2 separate regions of the Homo sapiens genome follow, and region 1 is linked to region 2. Evidence: fine-mapped QTL for protein levels in blood plasma. A gene starts in region 2. The other region holds a variant in brackets. All regions are shown on one strand. Distances are from middle to middle. Region 1 overlaps FBP1 (fructose-bisphosphatase 1). Region 2 holds the start of FBP1 (fructose-bisphosphatase 1).

Evidence for each region. PIP is the posterior inclusion probability: the model's chance that the variant is causal. The UK Biobank Pharma Proteomics Project read protein levels with antibody pairs (Olink). The fine-mapping took linkage between variants from a reference panel, not from the people measured, so its PIPs are less certain.
Region 1: its variant is fine-mapped to the plasma level of the FBP1 protein (UK Biobank, PIP above 0.99). The variant lies in the coding sequence of FBP1. If it changes the protein, the assay may bind it differently, which can mimic a change of level.

The regions. Positions count from the first base shown.
Region 1 is chr9:94,618,502-94,628,910 of GRCh38, forward strand. It overlaps FBP1 (fructose-bisphosphatase 1), which reads right to left. Exons shown (of 7, transcript NM_000507.4): 2 at 1,828-1,990. Among named protein-coding and RNA genes, the nearest start is that of FBP1, 16 kb to the right of the region's middle. The variant G/A (reference allele first, on the strand shown) is at 1,886.
Region 2 is chr9:94,636,502-94,646,605 of GRCh38, forward strand. It overlaps FBP1 (fructose-bisphosphatase 1), which reads right to left and starts at 3,017. Exons shown (of 7, transcript NM_000507.4): 1 at 2,640-3,017. The coding sequence starts at 2,809. RefSeq lists a silencer at 3,091-3,150.

The DNA of each region.
Region 1 (10,409 bases), 18 kb before region 2:
GGGCATGATGCTGCACATCTGTAGTCCCAGCTACTCAGGAGGCTGAGACAGGAGGTATCACTTGAGCCAGGAGTTCGAGGCTGCAGTGAGCCATGACTGTGCACTCCAGTCTGGGTGACAGAATGAGGCCCTGTCTCTAAAAACAAAACTAAACAAAACAAATTTCTAGCGTAATTCCCAAAGTAGATAACTTTCAGTGGTAGTGGGAATACCGCAGATTCCTGTTTTGAGTGGGATTTTCAGTGGTGTGCAGGAGCTGGCTGGTATCGGCTCTCAGGAGCTAACGGTGCACATCTCTTCCCAACTCTGCCTTCAGTGATATCACATTGGTAGCTTAAAATCAACGATGGGAGAGTATTCACACCATTGACAGAGGCAAGTGGACATATCAGAGACTTGTTTGTTTGCTTTGAGACCCAGTTTACCAGCACATCACTGGGAGTTTTCCATCTCCAAATTAGCCACTTTACAATGTCGTTTTTAAATGTCTGTAGCAGATTAACATGATTCCCTGCCCTCTTGCTCTTCACAGACCACCCTCACTAATGCAGGAGGAACTGGAAACTGGAACACAGGAAGCTGCCTATCATGAAGGCCCATGATAGACAAGAGAAGTCCGGCGTGAGTGATGGAGAATATTAAACAACAAATCTAAGCCATACGCCTAAAGCTGCCAAAGACCTTGAAAGGCCCAGCTGAGAAAAACATGAACTTCAAGTCTGGCATGTACGGCTATTTTAGGAATGATGAAAAACAACTTCATCAGATGTGGCTCCTGCCCTCTTAATAGGGTGAGGACAGGCAGCCTCTTCATCTTCTCATTGTTTTTTCCTAATTCTACTCCTTCATGTTCCCAGTTCCTCTCAAACTGGGAAAGATAGTAAGCCCATATAACTGCACTTCTAATCTCAGAAGTTTTTTTTTCTAATTACAATTGTTGTTTTATAAAAGCTGGGAATACTCTTTCATTTAACAATCTTTTTCAACAGTCATTTGTTGTTGAGGCCCTCCAATGTGCCAGGCATTGCACTAGACACTGGGACACAGAGACAAATAAGATTCATTTTCTGCTCTCAAAAAGCAGAGATAACGCCAGGTGTGGTGGCTCACACCTGTAATCCCAGCACTTTGGGAGGCCAAGGTGGGCGGGTCACTTGAGGTCAGGAGTTCAAGGCCAGCCTGGCCAACATGGTGAAACCTCATCTCCACTAAAAATACAAAAATTAGCCAGGTGTGGTGGCGGGAACCTGTAATCCCAGCTACTCAGGAGGCTGAGGCAGGAGAATCGCTTGAACCCAGGAGGCGGAGGTTGCAGTGAGCCAAGATCACACCACTGTACACCAGACTGGGCAACAAGAGCAAAACACTGTCTCAAAAAAAAAAAAAAAAAAAAAAAAAAAAGAAGCAGAGACAGACCAATAGGGACTCCAATGCGTGCATCAGGGATGGAAGTTTCAAGCAGTCTAGGTCAACAGGAGGGTCAGTGTGAAGGTCAGGAATTTGGTGGATAGGGATGTAGTACAAGAGGTGACCAACAGAAGCCAGGGTTTGAAGAGCCTTAAACATGGCAATAAAAAGTTAGAAATGGAGATGAGTTTGTGGGAGTCCACTGGGGAGAAGGCGGCGTGAGCCACAACACTCATCTGCACAGTGGCTCAGGGAGGATTCGAGAGATGGCAGCAGTGAGGTGGAAGCTATGAAAAGACCACAGCAGGGATCTAGAGGGACTCCCAGAAACCCAGCTCAGCTGAACAAGTGGAGTCAATTATGAAGCTGGGAAGAAGACCGGCTACATTAAAACCCTCAATGGTGGAAGTACAGACCCACCCTTTTCTCCGGTTCCACTATGATGGCGTGTTTATCTTCTTCTGACACGAGAACACAC[G/A]TGGCAAAGGATGACTTTAACATGTTCATAACCAGGTCGTTGGAGAGGACGTCCAGCTTCTTAACTTGATCACCTGTCACGTTGGTAGAACCAGCAATGCCATAGCTACAGGGAACAAAAGCCACAAAAAATAAGCCATGACCACCAGAACATGTAGATGAGTCCATAAACCCACCAAAAGTGAGTGTTCGGTAAGATTTAGAAGAAAGAGTTCATGTCCTTTGCAGGGACATGGATGAAGCTGGAATCCATCATTCTCAGCAAACTAATACAGGAACAGAAAACCAAACACCACATGTTCTCACTCATAAATGGGAGTTGAACAATGAGAACACATAGACACAGGGAGGGGAACATCACACACTGGGGCCTCTCAGGGAGCTGGGGACTAGGGGAGGGAGAGCATTAGGAGAAATACCTAATGTAGATGACAGATTGATGGGTGCAGCAAACCACCATGGCATGTTTATACCTATGTAACAAACCTACGCATTCTGCATGTGTATCCCAGAACTTAAAGTATAATAATAATTTTTTTAAAAAAGGGCCGGGCGTGGTGGCTCACGCCTGTAATCCCAGCACTTTGGGAGGCTGAGGCGGGTGGATCATGAGGTCAGGGGATCGAGACCATCCTGGCTAACATGGTGAAACCCCGTCTCTATTAAAAAATACAAAAAAGTAGCCGGGTGTGGTGGTGGGTGCCTGTAGTCCCAGCTACTTGGGAGGCTGAGGCAGGAGAATGGCGTGAACCCAGGAGGCGGAGCTTGCAGTGAGCCGAGATCGTGCCACTGCATGCCAGCCTGGGCGACAGAGCGAGACTCCGTCTCAAAAAAAAAAAAAAAAAAAAAAAATACAAAAAATTAGCCGGGTGTGGTGGCGGGCGCCTGTAGTCCCAGCTATTCAGGATGCTGAGGCAGGAGAATGGCGTGAACCCGGGAGGTGGAGCTTGCAGTGAGCCGAGATCGCACCACTGCACTCCAGCCTGGGCGACAGAGCAAGATTCCGTCTAAAAATATATATATTTTTAGAAGAAAGGAAGGAGGACATCAGCTTGGGAGAACAAGGCAGGAAGGTCTGGACAGACCCTAGAGAGGAGGAGATACTATCATCTGCCTCTTCACCTCGAACCTGTCATGGTGCCCTGCACACTTTTGTGGTTAAATCAGTGTTTCTTAACTTTGTTTTCATTATGATTCCCCTAGGGAGCTTTTTAGAACATTTTTTCCTCAACCATACTCCCCCATGAAATATTTTTAATACTACAGATATAGTAGATATCTGTTTATTGCAGTATGTGTCTCAGTGCTTTTTACATAAAAAGTTTGCGGGTGTTTTTGGTTTTGCCCAGAAAGAACCAGTGTTGGCCCCCAAACACACGGGTTAAACGAATCAATAGAGAGACCCAGCAAGCAAGGAAGCCTGGGTCGGGGGTAGCCTGAGTTGCGAGCCAAGCCAAGGGGTTTATGGCTTTATAACTAAAAAGACCCTAAAAGAAACAAAGCATCAACCGGCCCCTCTGCCTCATTTCATAGAGGAGAAAACTCAGACCCAAGACTCCTGTGGACTTCTCCACACAGGCAGAGGGTAGAAGTGAGACGCTGCCTATGACTCCCAGGCAGAGGGTGGAGGCGAGACCCTGCCTATGACTCCCAGGCCAGGGCTCTCTTGGTGACACCCTGGGCCCCTGGCAGGAGTCCTAGGGCATGGAAGTTGCAGGGATCCTGGAGTTTTCACTATTTTTAAGCAACCTGCAAGTCAGTAATTATAGAATTCCCAGAATCCAGTGGCTTGTCTAAACGCAGCCTAGCTTCTTAGACTTACAGAAGCGGCAGGTTGTCATAGCCTGGGGTTGCCCTGAACACAGAAAGGAGGGAGACGTCTCACAGGAAGGATGCACAGAGCAAGGCGAGAGCCTTGATGTGGGAAGGGGAAAAGATGGGTCTTTGAAGACACCAGCAAGCCTCTGAAAGTGGGTGGTAAGGGCACACCCGCGCCCTTGGCCATGATGGCGATGTGCGCTCGCCTGGGAACTGACGGTCCCTGATCCAGTGGCCGTGACTGCTTCAGCTCCTGCAAGTGCATTTGCCCAAAACATAACTCGCTGTGACTGGCTGGGCAAAACTGAGCCCCTCCTAGAAACCATCCAAACCCACATGCCTGGTCCGGCCTGACTATCTCAGGAGCTAGCTCCGGCTGTCTTCTCGGGCCCGCCTGTCAGCGTCTTTCAGCCACTCTTGGCATCATTCCCTTTCCAGCCTGCAAAGCACATCTCATCCCACCAGCCCTCCTCCTGCTGCTTCTCTTTTCACCCATCACTCCTATTTCATGAGTAAAAGACCAAGATGTCTATCGAGCTTTGAGCTCCACCCCATGTCCCTGGGCTTTCGATCCTATTTCCACATGATCTTTTTCTGACCCCAATTGTGAGGCTGGGGCTTGTGCAGGAAGAAGGCAGCCAAAATCTGGGAGGCCAGAGGGACTTGGCAGGGCCCACCAGCTCAAATGCAGCTCCCTCAGTGACCCCACTAGCAGCAGTGCTCTCTCCTTTCCAGCCTGAGAGTTGCACTGTCAAAGTCACTTTATGATTATTTTTATTTTTATTTTTATTTTTATTTTTGGAGACAGTGTCACTCTGTTGTCCAGGCTGGTGTGCAGTTGCGTGATCTCGGCTCACTGCAACCTCCGCCTCCCAGGTTCAAGCGATTCTCGTGCCTCACCCTCCTGAGTAGCTGGGACTATAGCCGTATGCCACCACATCCAGCTAATTTTTGTATTTTTAGTACAGACAGGGTTTCACCATGTTGGCCAGGCTGGTCTCGAACTCCTGACCTCAAGTGATCCACCCACCTCAGCCTCCCAAAGTGCTGGGATTACAGGCATGAGCCACCGTGCCCAGCCCACTGTCAAACTCACTTCTGATTCCGGAGGGCAAATAGCACCGATGGACCAGAAGAAGGGCTTCAAGGCAGAGACCAGGTCCAGGCCTCAGCTCCCAGGCTCCCCTGCTCTTTCTGAGCCTCCCTCCCTTTCACATGTGTCCAAAGAGGGAAGTGAAGTCTGCCCCCACGCGGCTGTCAGAGGATTGCATGAGATGACATACACAAAAGGCCTAGCACTAATAGGTGCAGCCTGACAGGGACAGCTCGGGGGGCCGGGAGGGCTGGGCAGAGGGGCCGAAGGCACTGGACACGGATGAGGCACTGAGGCAGGTGCAGAAGGAAAGTCCTATATTACCTTTTGGCCCAAGTCCCATCTGCTCAGGCACTTCCCTCAGGAACACTCAGGCCATGTGGTCTCTTTTACTCAAAATCTTCCTAGACAGCTATCTGAGTGCTCATTTATTCTACAAATATTCACCAGGGACCTGCTGTGCACGGGGAACCGTTCTAGATGCTGGGGTTACAGTGCCGAACACGGTAGATCAGATCCCGCCCTTGTGGAGCGTATATTCTACTGGGGTGAGCACAAACAAGAAATAAATAAGTGTTTTGGAATGAAAAAGATATGTCAGATAGTGACAGATGCTCGCTGACATAAAACAAAAACAAGGTGACAGGAGAGGGAGATGAGAGGCTAGATGGTTAATTTAGATGGTCAGGAAGATCTCTAGGGGGGCATTCAAGCTGAATGGTACTTTGAATGTTTTTCGTAAGAATGGGAGGAAATAGGCCGGGCACGGTGGCTCATGCCTGTAATCCCAGCACTTTGGGAGGCCGAGGTGGGTGGATCCACCTGAGGTCAGGAGATCGAGACCAGCCTGATCAACATGGTGAAGCCCTCTCTCTACTAAAAACACAAAAAATTAGCCGGGCATGGTGGCGGGCACCTGTAGTCCCAGCTACTCAGGAGGCTGAGGCAGAAGAATGGCGTGAACCCGGGAGGCGGAGCTTGCAGTGAGCCGAGATTGCGTCACTGCACTCCAGCCTGGGCGACAAAGCGAGACTCCATCTCAAAAAAAAAAAAAAAAAAGAACAGGAGGAAATGGGCCAGGCACGGTGGCTCACGCCTGTAATCCCAGCACTTTGGGAGGCCAAGGCGGGTGGATCCCCTGAGGTCAGAAAATTGAGACCAGCCTGACCAATATGGTGAAGTCCTATCTCTACTAAATACATAAAAATTAGCTGGGCGTGGTGGCACATGTCTGTAATCCCAGCTACTTGGGAAGCTGAGGCAGGAGAATCCCTTGAACCCAGGAGGCGGAGGTTGCAGTGAGCCGAGATCGCACCATTGCACTCCAGCCTGGGCAACAAGAGCGAAACGCTGTCTCAAAAAAATAAAAAAAAGAAAGAATGGGAGGAAATGAAAAAGCCCTAAAGAAGCCCAAATAAGTCAGCTAGTAATGACTCCAGAGAAGAGCTGTTTGTTAGCAATTTAGCCAAAGGAAACAGTAAGTACATTTTTCACATATTTCCAAATGGAAGGGAGTGGGTACTATGTGCACATTTATACAAGTAATTTTGTAAAGCCTGAGGTCTTTTTCCTGTGATGCCTGGATCCAGGAAGCATCTAAATTCAGAGAGAGGAGACCGGAGGGAGAAAGTCCTTGTAAGGATGGCTCTGATTTGCAGTACTCCTGGGCCAGCCCCACCACCCAGAGACAGACAAGTTATCCTGTAACTGTGTCCCAAACACAGGGGCACCGTGACTTGTTTTGTGGGATTAAATGAAAGTAGGCTATTTCCTCATGCAGTGGACTGCATTTTCCGAGCTTGCAGACTCAGCAGTTGGCCAGATTAAAGTGAGAAGCAACTTCTGTTGCCCCAGATCATGCCCAGACCTACGAGAGGTTACAGTCAGTGTCAGGGTGGGTGACTTAGCAAATCATGACCACCAGCCAGCCCTCCCCACTGCCATTCCAAGAGTCTCAGATGGCTCCTACCCTTGGCACACAGAGGAACCAACACAGAGAAGCTGAGGGCCACAGAAGGGGTGGTACACCGTTCACGATGGTAGGCTTGTGGGGCCACACAGCACTCTGCAAGGACGCATGGCACAGGGTCCTCAGCACCTGCATGGACAGGGCGGCCCGCATCCACCAAGCCATGCGGGGCTCTCACCACAGAACTGACGGGGCTGCCCGCATCCACCAAGCCATGCAGGCCCTCGCCACAGAACTGACAGGGCTGGGGCCGGGCACAGTGGCTCACGCCTGTAATCCCAGCACTTTGGGAGGCCGAGGCGAGCGGATCACGAGGTCAGGAGATCGAGACCATCCTGGCTAACACAGTGAAACCCCGTCTCTACTAAAAATACAAAAAATTAGCCGGGGACGGTGGCAGGCGCCTGTGGTCCCAGCTACTCGGGAGGCTGAGGCAGGAGAAAGGCGTGAACCCGGGAAGTGGAGCTTGCAGTGAGCCCAGATGGCGCCCCTGCGCTCCAGCCTGGGCGACAGAGCGAGACTCCGTCAAAAAGAAAGAATGACGGAGCTGCCCGCGTCCACCAAACCACGCAGGACCCTCACCACCTGCAAGGACAGGGCCGCCCGCATCCACCAAATCACGCAGGACCCTCAGCACCTCCATGGACAGGGCTGCCTGCATCCACCAAGCCACACAGGGCCTTTAGCACCTGCATGGATGGGGCTGCCTGCGTCCACCAAACCACGGCAGGAAATGGGCTCCACCTGCTTCGCGTTTCCATGACCCCGCTGGGTGGTGACAGATGCGTTAAGCTGGTTCCTGCCCCTTTCTTGGGAACGCCTCTTCTCTTTACCCCCAGTAAGCGTCCTTCCCCTCTTCTAGCAGGAAGGACCCTTCTCCAGCTATCCTCCAGTTGTCTTTGAAGTGTAAGAGAACACATGAAGATAGATTACTCTGGGCTGCTCCAACTCAATGTTCACGTACTTTATAACTTTGCTAAGATATCTTGAGGGAAGGCTTCTCCTGGTTAATCCTGGCGTTAGGAAAAGCTTCCAGAAAAGCACAGGAAAAGGATCCTAAGGTAGAAACAGTGGGTCAAGAGAATAAATTCCCCCGGCTGCCAGCCAACTATGCTGCCATGTTGATAGCAACAATGTCCAGGTGTCCCTCATGTCTCCAGGTCTCCTCTGAGCCGCAGTGAGTTAAGCTGGCCACACCGTGCTGGTCCCACCACCCTGGCTTAGTCCTGTCAGGGCTGCACAGCCATGATGAGCAGTCAGGACCAGACGCAGGCTCCATCAAGCCTCCCCCGTCACACCTCGGGGACCCTAAGAAGGGCTTGAGATTTCCCCGAGTAACACATTTACACAGGTCAATGAAAAGTGGCAAGCAGGCAAGGCTTCCGTGATTCTGAGAGAGGAAAAATTCCTCAGAAACAAGCTCAAGGACTTAATTAGCTGAAGATCACATGCAGTTTATTTTCTCCATAAGTTTTCAGAAGCCCCCTTAGAAATACTAAATGTCTGGCCAGGCACAGTGGCTCACACCTGTAATCTCAGCACTTTGGGAAGCTAAGGCAGGCGGATTACCTGAGGTTCAGGATTTCGAGACCAGCCTGGCCAACATGGTGAAATCCCATCTCTACTAAAAATACAAAAATTGGCCAGTCGCAGTGGCTCACACCTGTAATCCCAACACTTTGGGAGGCTGAGGCAGGTGGATCACCTGAGGCTGGGAGTTCAAGACCAGCCTGACCAACATGGAGAAACCCTGTCTCTACTAAAAATACAAACTTAGCTGGGTATGGTGGCATGTGCCTGTAATCCCAGCTACTCAGGAGGCTGAGGCAGGAGAATCGCTTGAACCCGGGAGGCAGAGGTTGCAGTAAGCTGAGATCACGCAATTGCACTCCAGCCTGGGCAACAAGAGTGAAACTCCATCTCAAAAAAAAAAAAAAAAATTAGCCGGGCGTGGTGGCGGGCGCCTGTAATCCCAGCTAGTAGGGAGGCTGAGATAGGAGAGTCACCTGAACCCGGGAGGCGGAGGTTGCAGTGAGCCGAGATCACACCACTGCACTCCAGCCTGGGCAAAAAAGAGTGAAATTCCACCTCAGAAAGAAAAAGAAAAGAAATTATAAATGTCTGCCTGCTGATCAGTCATCATTCCTGAATGGCCCTGAAGGATAGATTAACAAGAGCATTCACTCTATATTCCAATCACCACCTAGAGAGGGCGGGCTCAGCAGCCTAGAGTCAATAGCAGGTGTGGGTCTCAGCTCCTGGTGAGACAGCCCTGAGCCCTAGCGAATGCAGCGGCTGCCATCCCCCGTCTGAAGTTCTAGGAAGACTCCAGGAGAGCCCAGTGGATCCAGAAGACCATCCTGCCTTGGAAGGCGTTTCCAGGAGGCAGCTGTGAACCAGAGGTGATGACACCAACTACCCTCCGTGGGACTCGACTGGAGCCTTGCACACACCACCCAGCTCCCTTCTAGATCAGCTCCCAATTTGCCATTCTCTAGGGATGGGAAAAGGCAGCAAATGAGGCTGGAGGGATATGGGAAACCATCACACGACCCTGTCCAAAAAAGCCCTCCCCAGGCCAACTGTGCCTTACAATTAAAGGAGAGGAACAGGTGAAATGGCCAAGACATGGGCTGAACTGAGCCAGATGTAAACCTCCAGGCCTAGCTCCCTTCCCCTACCTCCCTCCCCTGCTCTGCCCCTCAGCCCCACTGCCAGAAAAGGAGTCAACAGTAGCAGTTGGGGGCTGATCATGCAGGGGCAGGAAGGGCAATTTTGATTGAGCCAGTGACTTGATCTGCCAAGGAAATGTTTTCTGAATAAAAGTTATCACAGAGGTGGCCAGACACAGTGGCTCATGCCTGTGATCCCAACATTTTGGGAGGCCAAGGCATGTGGATCACTTGAGGACAGGAGTTCGAGACCAGCCTGCCAACATGGTCAAAGCCCACCTCTACTAAAAATACAAAAATTAGCCAGGTGTGGTGGCACATGCCTACAATCCCAGCTACTTGGAAGGCCGAGGCACAAGAATTGCTTGAACCCAGGAGGCAAAGGTTGCAGTGAGCCAAGGTCACACCACTGCACTCTAGAACGGGCCACAGAGACTCTGTCTCAAAAAAAAAAAAAAAATTTATCATAGAGGGGAAAGGCAACATTGTGAGGTTTTCTCCACCTTTTCTGTATTGGGCCTAAGAGGAGAAATGTCAGAGCATAAGGAGCAAAGTGGCTTGAGGCCTTCCTTGAGAAGTAGCAGGCAGCAAACAAGAGAACAGGGCACCTGCTGAGGCCAGAGCACCACTGGCCGCTACTGTTGGCAACAGAATTTAAATGCCCCGCACCTCACAGCAAGGAGGCCAAACGGGCTGCATAGAACCCCAGAGCCCCAGCCGAATCAGGGCACAGTGTTGCACAAATGTCAGCTACTTCCAGGCATGTGTGAATCAATAGGTGGCTTTCAAACCACGGCTGAAAATTCTAGGACATGCTTTTAAATTGCACTGTTCCAGAGACCCGGATATTTGGTTTCCATATATCCAAGTTGAAGCTGAGATTTTCTTGAGAATAGCAAAGAGAACAATGATGAGGAAACACTAATCATGATTCACACTATATTTAAATACTTTAAAATCTCGTTCTATGTTG
Region 2 (10,104 bases):
ATACCTTACGTAGCCAAAATTAACATGCTTCATCCAGGCCCCACCATCAAAATCTCACTATCCAAGGTCCCACTGTCTAAGGTTACTTAGACAGTGGGACACCTCAAAACACATCTTACATTTCTCAGTCTCTCTAGGGGTGTGAAAGGTACTGACACATTTTTTAAACAATATCAGACATGACAAGCCCTTTTTTTTCTTTTTTTGAGACAGAGTCTTACTCGGTCGCCAGGCTGGAGTAGAGTGGCACGATCTGGGCTCACTGCAACCTCCGCCTCCCGGGTTCAAGCAATTCTCCTGCCTCAGCCTCCCAAGTAGCTGGGATTACAGGCGCCTGCCACCATGCCTGGCTAATTTTTGTGTTTTTAGTAGAGACAGGGTTTCACCATGTTGGCCAGGCTGGTCTCAAACACCTGGACTTTGAGTGATCTACCCGTCTCAGCCTCCCAAAGTGCTGGGATTACAGGTGTGAGCCACCACACCCAGTCGACAAGCCCTCTTTTTAAAATATATCCCTGGTCCTCAAAGGCAGTTAAAGCTGTGAGCCACCTATACTAGCTGTAAATTAAAGCTTAAGATTTCACCTGGGTATGTTTCTAAAATAAGAATCCTTAGGAATGTATTATTAAGAGGGGCCAGAGGCAACAGTAATGGAGTCATCACCTTCCTTAACATGTCTGCTTAATATTCAAAAATAAATGTGATCATACCACTCCTTTACATGAATTACCTCCACCAGTCCATACTGTGGGACCAAAGCCAGACAGCCTGCCAGTAAGAAAAGGAATCTAGATTGCAGGATGCGGGGCGGAGAAGAGTTTTTAAGAATGGAGAAATGCATTCCAAACCCAAGTAGCAGGGTTGTATTTGTTCAGGTCAGCTCTGAGCATCATGCGTCTTTTTTTTTTTTTTTTAAGACAAAGTCACGCTCTTGTCGCGCAGGCTGGAGTGCAATGATGCGATCTCGGCTCACTGCAACCTCTGCCTCCTGGGTTCAAGCAATTCTCCTTCCTCAGCCTCCCGAGTAGCTGGGATTACAGGCGCCTGCCACCACACCCAGCTAATTTTTGGTAGAGACGGGGTTTCACCATGTTGATCAGGTTGGTCTTGAACTCCTGACCTCAGGCAATCCACCTGTTTCGGCCTCCCAAAGTGCTGGGATGACAGGCTAGAGCCTACGCGCCCAGCCCATCATGTGTCATTTTTATAGTGTGCATAAGTGCGGGGAATGTTAGTAAAGTGTATGGACAATCTGAAAACCCAGTTACACTTCAGTTAAAAGTGTGGATCAGTTAGCTAGAAAATACCTGCGCACGGCGGCTCATGCCTGTAATCCCAGCACTTTGGGAGGCCAAGGCATCACCGGAGGTCGGGAGTTCGAGACCAGCCTGACCAACATGGAGAAACCCCGTTTCTACTAAAAAAAATTACAAAATTAGCTGGGCATGGTGGCACATGCCTGTAATCCCAGCTACTCGGGAGACTGAGGCAGGAGAATCGCTTGAACCTGGGAGGCAGAGGTTGCGGTGAGCCAAGATCGCACCATTGCACTCCAGCCTGGGCAACAAGAGCAAAATTCCATCTCAAAAAAAAAAAAAAAAAGAAAAGAAAAAGAAAATACCTGTGCACACCAACACAAACGAAAGGATGTTGTGTGACTTACAAAAAACCTCACAAGAAGGGGTCCTTTGAGTCTCCACTCCACTTGACCCCTTGCTACTCACAATGTGATGAGTAGACAAACAGTATCTGATGGGCAGCACCCACCACAGGAGAACTTCTTAGAAATGCAGAATCTCAGGACCTGTCCCAGAGCTATGGAAGGAGGGCACACATCTTACCAAGATCCCCAAATGATTCCTGTGCCCAGTGACGTTCGAGATGCACTCCATAGCGCATTCAGAACCATTCTACAAACCACTTTTGAGCTTTCCACTAATTGGGCAGAGGCTGCACACACCATCATTGCAAATCGATAGGGGTTTTGAAGCCCTGGGTGTTTCCTGTTTCTGGCACAGCATGGCAACTGTCCCAGCAAGGGGCAGCCCACGGGAGCTCCTTTGCACACAAGCCCTGCTGCTCCTAAAGGCTCTGGACACACAGGAGACCTCCCAGCCTGCTTGCGGGGGGGGCGGGGGGGACACTCGCTCCTAACAGGTCTTGTTTCAGGTCAGAGATAACTGGATTAGAAACCTGACTTGGGTCCCTAATTGCAGAAAGAGTGAAGGAGGACAAAGAAGAAATGGGGAAGGAAGGCACCTGAGCTAGCACTTTCCTGTCTGAGGCTAGGGCGGGTATGACGGGCAGGCCAGGTGCCCACACTTGGCCGGCTGAGAGGGGTACGAGGCAGGCTGCTCAGGGCAGAGAAGAGGAATGCAAGATGGAATCAGGTGTACACCTGTGAGACGGACCCCCAGGTGGGCCCCTCCAAGGTCAAGGGAGGAGATGAGGACTTGAGTGAGGCTGAGCCAGCTTCTGGAGAGAGGGGCTACCAGACAGAGAGCGAGAGAGGCGCTCAGACATCAGACGGACAGACAGAGGCTGACGGCAGGAGGCTCAGAGGGCCCAACGTCAGCCCGCCGGGCAGGCTCCCCAGGCAGACAGACAGGACGGGGCCCACCGCCCAAGGCCCGACTCACAGGTGCGCGATGCCCGCCTTGCGCACCGCCGAAGAGATGGCTTTGACTGCTGTGCAGAGCGAGTTGAGCAGCTGGGTCAACTCGCCCGTGCCGCGGGCCTTCCTGCCCTCCTCCATGACGAAGCGGGTCAGGGTGTTGACGTCCGTGTCGAAGGGCGCCTGGTCAGCCATGCTTGAACCGGGTAGAGCGCGGGGCTGCAGGTGCAAGCGGCAGGTGCGGGGCTGCAGGTGCGGGCGGCAAGAGAGGGCAGTAGGCACTGGCCGCAGGTGCGGAGCTGCAGGTGCGGGCGGCAGGTGCGGGCCGCGGGACCTGGCGGGAGGACTGACAGACCGACTGCCGCCCCGAGTGTCCGCAGCGCTCGTGGTGCAACTGGGCCAGGCCAGGCGCCGGCGGGTGAATCGCGGAAACCTTTAGACGCGGGTCGGCCCCCCGCCCCCGGGAACACTCTTGCGCCCCGCCTACCCCGCGGACCAGACCGCGGCTCCGCCTGCTTGGATCTTCAGACAAGGTCGGGGATCCTCCCTGCGGTCTCCCAACCCCCGCCCCCACGCGCCCTGCCGCCCCCTAGTCTTCCTGGGCTGTCGCCCCCCACACACACCCCTCCGTGCCCTCCACCCGCACTGTGGAGCGGGACTCGGGCCATCGGACTCTGCCAGAGAGAAAGCTATGACTGTTTCCTCCAAAATCATAAAACGGAAGTTCAGAAAGGTTAAGTAACTTGCTCAATGCCACCAGCTAGGCAGCGAAACCCGCAGCCAGTCCACATGGCCTGGCTTTAGCTCTGCAGCTCCTGCCCCGTGTGGCTGCCTGCCCCCGCCCCCTGCCCAAGCCCCGTCCACTCTGCCTGGCCTGTCACCTGGCCCTTCTGTCCCCGCTAGGAGACACAGAGTCCCCGTTTCTCACCCATCTGAGGGCCCACGTCTGAATCCTTAATCCAGGCCTCTTCTCAAGATTCCTAGAATTCGAGAGCTATTGAGTATTTGAATTTCCAAGATGTGAGTCTCGCCCGGAAGTTTCCCGGAAAACGGTCGCTGACACAGAGTCCTCGGCTACCACACAAAGGCCAGAGGGCTCCACCGCCCGCATCCTGACCCCCTGGTAGCCACAATGCTGCAATTGATGTGCTGATTCACGAAACAACACCTATTGAGCACCTGCTGTGCTGAACACTGTCCTACCTTCCAGGGGTGGAGCCTGATCCAAACAGACAAAACTCCTGCCCTTTTCGAGTGTACGTTTTCACAGAGAAACAGTAAAAATAAATATATAAACAATAGATTAGTTTGTTACATAAGCCATAAGTACCATAGAGAGAAACGAAATAGAAAAGGAAGACACGGAATGTGGAGGGGAGAAGAGGGTGAGCAGAGGCCTCAGTAAAAGCTTCTCTGAGAAAGGGATATGTGAGCAAAGAGGTGAAGGATGCAACGCGCCGGTGGAGATGGGAAGGAGAGCGGTTTCCTCACCGGGAGAGCCAGTGCACAGGCCCTGGGGTAGGAGACCATGTTTCAGGTTCAGGGAATGGCCAGGAGACCGGTGGAGCTGAAATAGAGCTAGCAAGGGTCAGAGGTGGAGGAGATAAGGCCAGCGGGAGGATGCAGAGGTGAGGTCTAGAGGGCCAAGTGAGGTTTGACTTTGACTAGGAGGAACCCACTGGAGAGTTTGGAGAAGAAGAGAGGCATGGTCTACCCTGTGTCTTCATACTGCGGCTACTGTGTGAAGATCAGACTGAAGACAGTGCCCTCCAGGTTACTAGGAGATAGTGAGCCAGGTGTTAGCAGTGGAGGTGGTGGATTCTGGACATATTTTGAAGGTAGAGCTGATGGGATTCGTTGACAGATGAGATATGTGAGAGACAGGAGTCTCGGATGATTCTAAGGTTTGAGGCCTGAGAAACTAGAAGAATGCAGTTGTCCTCGACTGCGATGGGGAACACCGAGAGGGGCGTGTGCTGGAGGCAGGACTGACAATTAGGAGCTAAGTGTGGGACCTGCTAAGTTTGAAATGCCTTCTAGACATCCAAGGCAATGTCAAATAGACAGATTTATGTATCTGGAGTTCAGAGGAGAGATCCATGCTGCAGGTATAAATTGGAAAAGCCAACTGGAAAAACCAACCAAAAACCAAGAGATGTGACATCCGGGAAGCCAGATGAAGAAGGTAAGTAAAGGCGGGCTGACCCATGTGCCAAGCGGTGTGGATGGGGCAGGCAGGACAAGCTCTGAAAATTGACTGCTGGATTCACCGTGGAGACCTGGGGTGCAGATTCCTGTGCCCAGGGTTGTCAGATGCGGCGGCGTTGAATGAAGGAAGGTGGTGGTACCACCAGGAAAGACAGCGACTGTCTCCTCAAAGCCCCAGAGGGGACTTAGATGCCTGGCAAAGAGAGTTGATCCTTTAAGGGTCTTATTTAACTCTTTGTTCCTCAGGCAACTTTTCAGGAAAAACCCTGTGTTAAAAAAAATAGTAAGAGAAATACATCCTTAAACATAAAAACTCAAATAGGCCCGGCTCACTGGCTCACACCTGTAATCCCAGCACTTCACTTTGGGAGGCCGAGGCGGGCAGATCACCTGAGGTTGGGAGCTCGAGACCAGCCTGACCAACATGGAGAAACCCCGTCTCTACTAAAAGTACAAAAATTAGCTGGGCATGGTGGTGCATGCCTGTAATTCCAGCTACTCAGGAGGCTGAGGCAGGAGAATCGCTTGAACCTGGGAGGCGGAGATTGCAGTGAGCAGAGATGGCACCATTGCAGTCCAGCCTGGGCATCAAGAACAAAACTCCATCTCAAAAAAAAAAAAAAAAAAGAAAAACAAACAAACTGGAGGCTGAGGCGGGCAGATCTTGAGGTCAGGAGTTCAAGACCAGCCTGGCCAACATGGTGAAACCCATCTCTACTAAAATAAAAAATTAGCCGGGCATGGTGGTGTGCACCTGTAATTCCAGCTACTCAGGAGGCTGAGGCAGGAGAATCGCTTGAACCCGGGAGACAGAAGTTGCAGTGAGTCAAGATCCTGCCGCTGCACTCCAGCCTGGGCAACAGAGCGAGATTCAATCTCAAAAAAAAAAAAAAGAACTGAAATGTGATGACTAGTATTTTTGGCATAGTAACTAGTTACTAGGGGAGAGCTAGAGCTAGTAACTAGGGGAGTGTGCCCCTTTACTTGCCAGACTCTCAGTCCCTCAGGATCTTGGATTGGCTAGGACCGTAAAAGTCATCTAGTCCAGCCAACCCTCATTGGACACCATCCCTGATAAGAGGTGAAGAGCTTGGGATCTGCATTAAGCAAACTTGTTTGAGTCCCAGCTCCAGCCCTCAGCAGCCAGAGATCTCGGACCAGTTACCTAATCTCTGTAAACCCAGTTTGTTCATCCATATAGTGGAATAATGGTTCCATCTGGCAGTGGTGTCATCGGGCTGAAATGAGATGGCATTGGCAGAGTGCTTAGCTCAGAGCTACACACAGGGGACACACTGAATACGTGGAGGAGACCCCTGTCTAGCTCAGTCACTTCTGCTTGTCACCCACGATGATGGGCAGCTCATTGCCTACAAGGCAAGCCATTCCCCTTGGGACTAGGCCACGTCGCATTGTGGTGAAGTGCACAGACTCTGGGGCTGCATGGCTTGGGTCCAAACCCTGGCCTGGCCACTTACTGGCTGTGCAAGCCTGTGCAATTGGCTAAACCTCACCAAGCAACCATTGGCTCATCTGTAAACTGGGGCTAATGATTGTAGCCACCTCATAGGGTTGCTGGGAGAATTATACAGGCAGTGCTGGTAGTGTTTAAGAACAGTGCCCAGCATGTAGTAAGTACACAGTATGTAAGTGTTTGCTTCGTTACATGGGTAGGGCCAACTGTTGTTTTCATGTGAACAGAAGCAAGAAAGTTCCCTGGCCATCAAAAGGGGCTAGAGGGATGTGGGAATTGGCAGCTGAGCCTGTATTTGCCTGGTGTGCAGTGATATCCCCTCCATCATATTGGTCGATTGTGACTCGCTCTTTTCTGGGTCAAGATGCATAAAGCCCATCACCCAGGTATTAGCAAGAGACAGAGGAAGGCGGCCACCTCACATGGGTTCCTGGCCTGTGGGTTGGGCCCCTCCCTCCTCCACCCACCACCCTCGCAGAGTTGCTTCTTGCCACATACTCCAACTTCACATGGGATTGCAGATTCAAGTGATGTGAGCAGTATTACCACATGTGTAACACTCGAAATCCTGCGAAGAATCAGTGCTCATGCATTTCCTCACCCAGCTCCCACGATGGGGTTATGTTGGAGGCGGGCAGTGGAGAAGTAACAGTGTGGACAGTCCCTGCCCCTACAACAGCCGCCCTCAACCCAGGGCTCCACTGCTTACTTTCCCCTCTGTGGGGGCGGTTAGTGCCACAGGAAAGAAAAACAGGCCAGGCACAGTGCACACACCTGTAATCCCAATGCTCTGGGTTGCCGAGGCAGACAGACCACTTGAGCCCAGGAATTTTAAAAGCGGCCTGGACAACATAAGGAAAACACTGTCTCTAAAAAAATTTAAAAATTACCCAGGAGTGGTGGCGCATGCCTGTAGTCTCAGCTACTGGAGAGGCTGAAGGAGGAGGATCACTTGAGCCCAAGAGGTCGAGGCTGCGGTGAGCCGTGATCACAGCACTGCACTCCAGCCTAGGCAATAGAGTGAGAGTGTGTCTCTAACAAAAACACAAAAAGAAAAACAAAAGCCAAGTGGTGTATGTGAGAGGGATTGCAGTAGCATGGTCCTTCCTTAAACACCTCCCCCAGCTCCTGTGGCCCCGGGGGCCTGGTGTGGAAACTAAACAGCAAACATCTATTTAGCACTTGCTAAGGGTGTGGCACTTGCCCAGGGCTTCAGAAGCAGCCTTTAATCAATCCAGAACCACTCTGGGGTGGCTTCTAATCAAACCCCTGTCTTTACAGATGAAGGGACTGAGGCTTTTCTTTCTTTTCCTTTTCTTTTCTTTTCTTTTTTTTTTTTTTGAGATAGAGTCTCACTCTGTCGTCCAGGCTGGAGTGCAGTGGCATGATCTCGGCTCACTGCAAGCTCCGCCTCCCAGGTTCACACCATTCTCCTGCCTCAGCCTCCTGAGTAGCTGGGACTACAGGCCCCCGCCACTTCGCCCAGCTAATTTTTTGTATTTTTAGTAGAGATGGGGTTTCACTGTGTTAGCCAGGATGGTCTCAATCTCCTGACCTCGTGATCCACCCACCTCAGCCTCCCAAAGTGCTGAGATTACAGGCGTGAGCCACTGTGCTTGGCCCAATTTTTGTATTTTTAGTAGAGATGGGATTTCACCATGTTGGTCAGGCTGGTCTCAAACTCCCAACCTCAGGTAATCTGCCCGCCTCGGCCTCCCAAAGGGCTGGAATTACAGATGTGAGCCACCACGCCCGGCCAACAAGGTCAAATAACCTGTCCAAGGCCTGCAGCCAGGCAGGAAGTGACAGAACAAAGACTCAAACCCTCATCTGTCTGATTCCAAACCCCATATTCCCACTGACTTGCTGGTTCTTTCCTAAGTGGCAGTTTCCCTCCACGTCATGCCTCCAGGGACAGGCAAGGCTCTGAGCCCGCCTACGGCAGCTCTCTGGACTCTAGAGCTATTTCTGGGCTCATGTTCATTCATTCTTTCACTCAACACATAGTTTTTGAACACCTGCTGTATGCCAAAACCATACCACACCCTGAGGTTGCAGTGGTGAACAGGACAGACACAGCTCAGTCCACTTTAGGTTTATATTCTTTGTGGGGGAGATAAGAAAAAAAATCATTTAACCAACAAAGACACAAAACTGTTTCAGGGAGCAGAGTGCTATGAAGACTGTAAAGCAGGATGAGGTAAAAACTCAAAGCCTTTCTTATGAAATGACTTTTGATCAGAGACTGAACAACAGAAAGGAATGGGGCAAATGAAGAGCTCATAGAGGAACATACAGAAGAACAAGCAAGGCTACGGCAGGTGCAAAGACCCTGGTGCATTCAAGGATCAGCTGGGAGAAGGCCAGTGTGGCCTGAAGGGCAAGTGAGGGAAGAACCACAGGAGATAAAGTTGGAAAGAGAGACGAGGGCAGATTATGAAAGGCCTCACAGCAAGTCGCTCAGGTTCTATTCATGCAGCCAGAAGACAGGGGAGGCCAGGTGCAGTGGCTCACGCCTGTAATCCCAGCACTTTGGGAGGCCGAGGCAGGCGGATCACGAGGTCAGGAGATTGAGACTATCCTGGCTAACGTGGTGAAACCCCGTCTCTACTAAAAATACAAAAAAATTAGCCTGGCGTGGTGGCGGGCACCTGTAGTCCCAGCTACTTGGGAAGCTGAGGCAGGAGAATGGCATGAATCCGGGAGGCGGAGCTTGCAGTGAGCTGAGATCGCGCCACTGCACTCCAGCCTGGGTGACAGAGCGAGACTCTGTCTCAAGAAAAAAAGAAGATGGGAGGGTTTTAAGCTGGGGAGCGACATGACTTACTAAACGGTGTGAGAATGGACCGTAGGTGGTCAAGAGCAGAAGCCAGGAGACCCAGCAGAAGGAGTCTGACCTAACCTCTACTTGATTTACAGTCAAATATGTGAAGCCCGCTGTCATATTCCCCATACATCTTTACTTCTCCAGTTAAATATTTTCAGCTCCTCCAGCTGCTCCTCAGGTGGCAAGATTTTGAAGTTCTTCCCTTCCTGTTCTGGACCTGGTGGCCCCTTGAGGCTCCTTATAACCCCATGCTCTATTTCCACGATTCCACCCATCTGCTCCACCTCATGTTCCAGGGGTCCTCTCTCCTAGGAAACTAGCTGTATTTTCTCCCCCCTGCTGATAATATTAGGAACAGGCTGATGATTGCAGCAGCAGGATGGGGCAGAGGGCAACTGAACCATGATGCAGTTGTAGTAAAGAGCTCAGCCAGCCCTGCGGGGAGCTCCTCTGAAGCTAAGATGACTCTGCAGAGCTGTCCTGAGTTGGGGCAAAGAGGCCTGGAAGTTAGACCTCCAGGCCAACATGTCATGGGCTATTGGCTGTCCTGGGAAGGGGCGTGACGTGGGAGAGTTAGCTGTCATCAGCAGAGGCAGTTCCAAAGACGGATGACAGCTGAGCACCGCCCACCGGCAGCAGTCCCAAGAGCTGGGAGCCCCTTCTTTGTCCTTAATGAGGAGCTGCAAGGCATCCCACAGCACCCACCGTCATCAGCAAGGAAGGCCAGAAACTGCGGGGAAGCAGGGTCTGTCTGCATCTCTCGGCTTTCCTTTCCTCTGTGTGGCATCACTCTCAGACACTCTCTCCCCTTGAAGCCCCATGTATGGCCACAGGTATCCCCAGAACTGTGCTCAGTCAGCCCAGCTTCCTTTCCCTCTAGTTCCAGCAAAAATCCAGTGTGGAACTCTTCCTGGTCCAGAGAGGTGACCATTCCCTGGCCAAGAATTGTTATAGTGATAGCACAGACCTCCTCCAATTTAT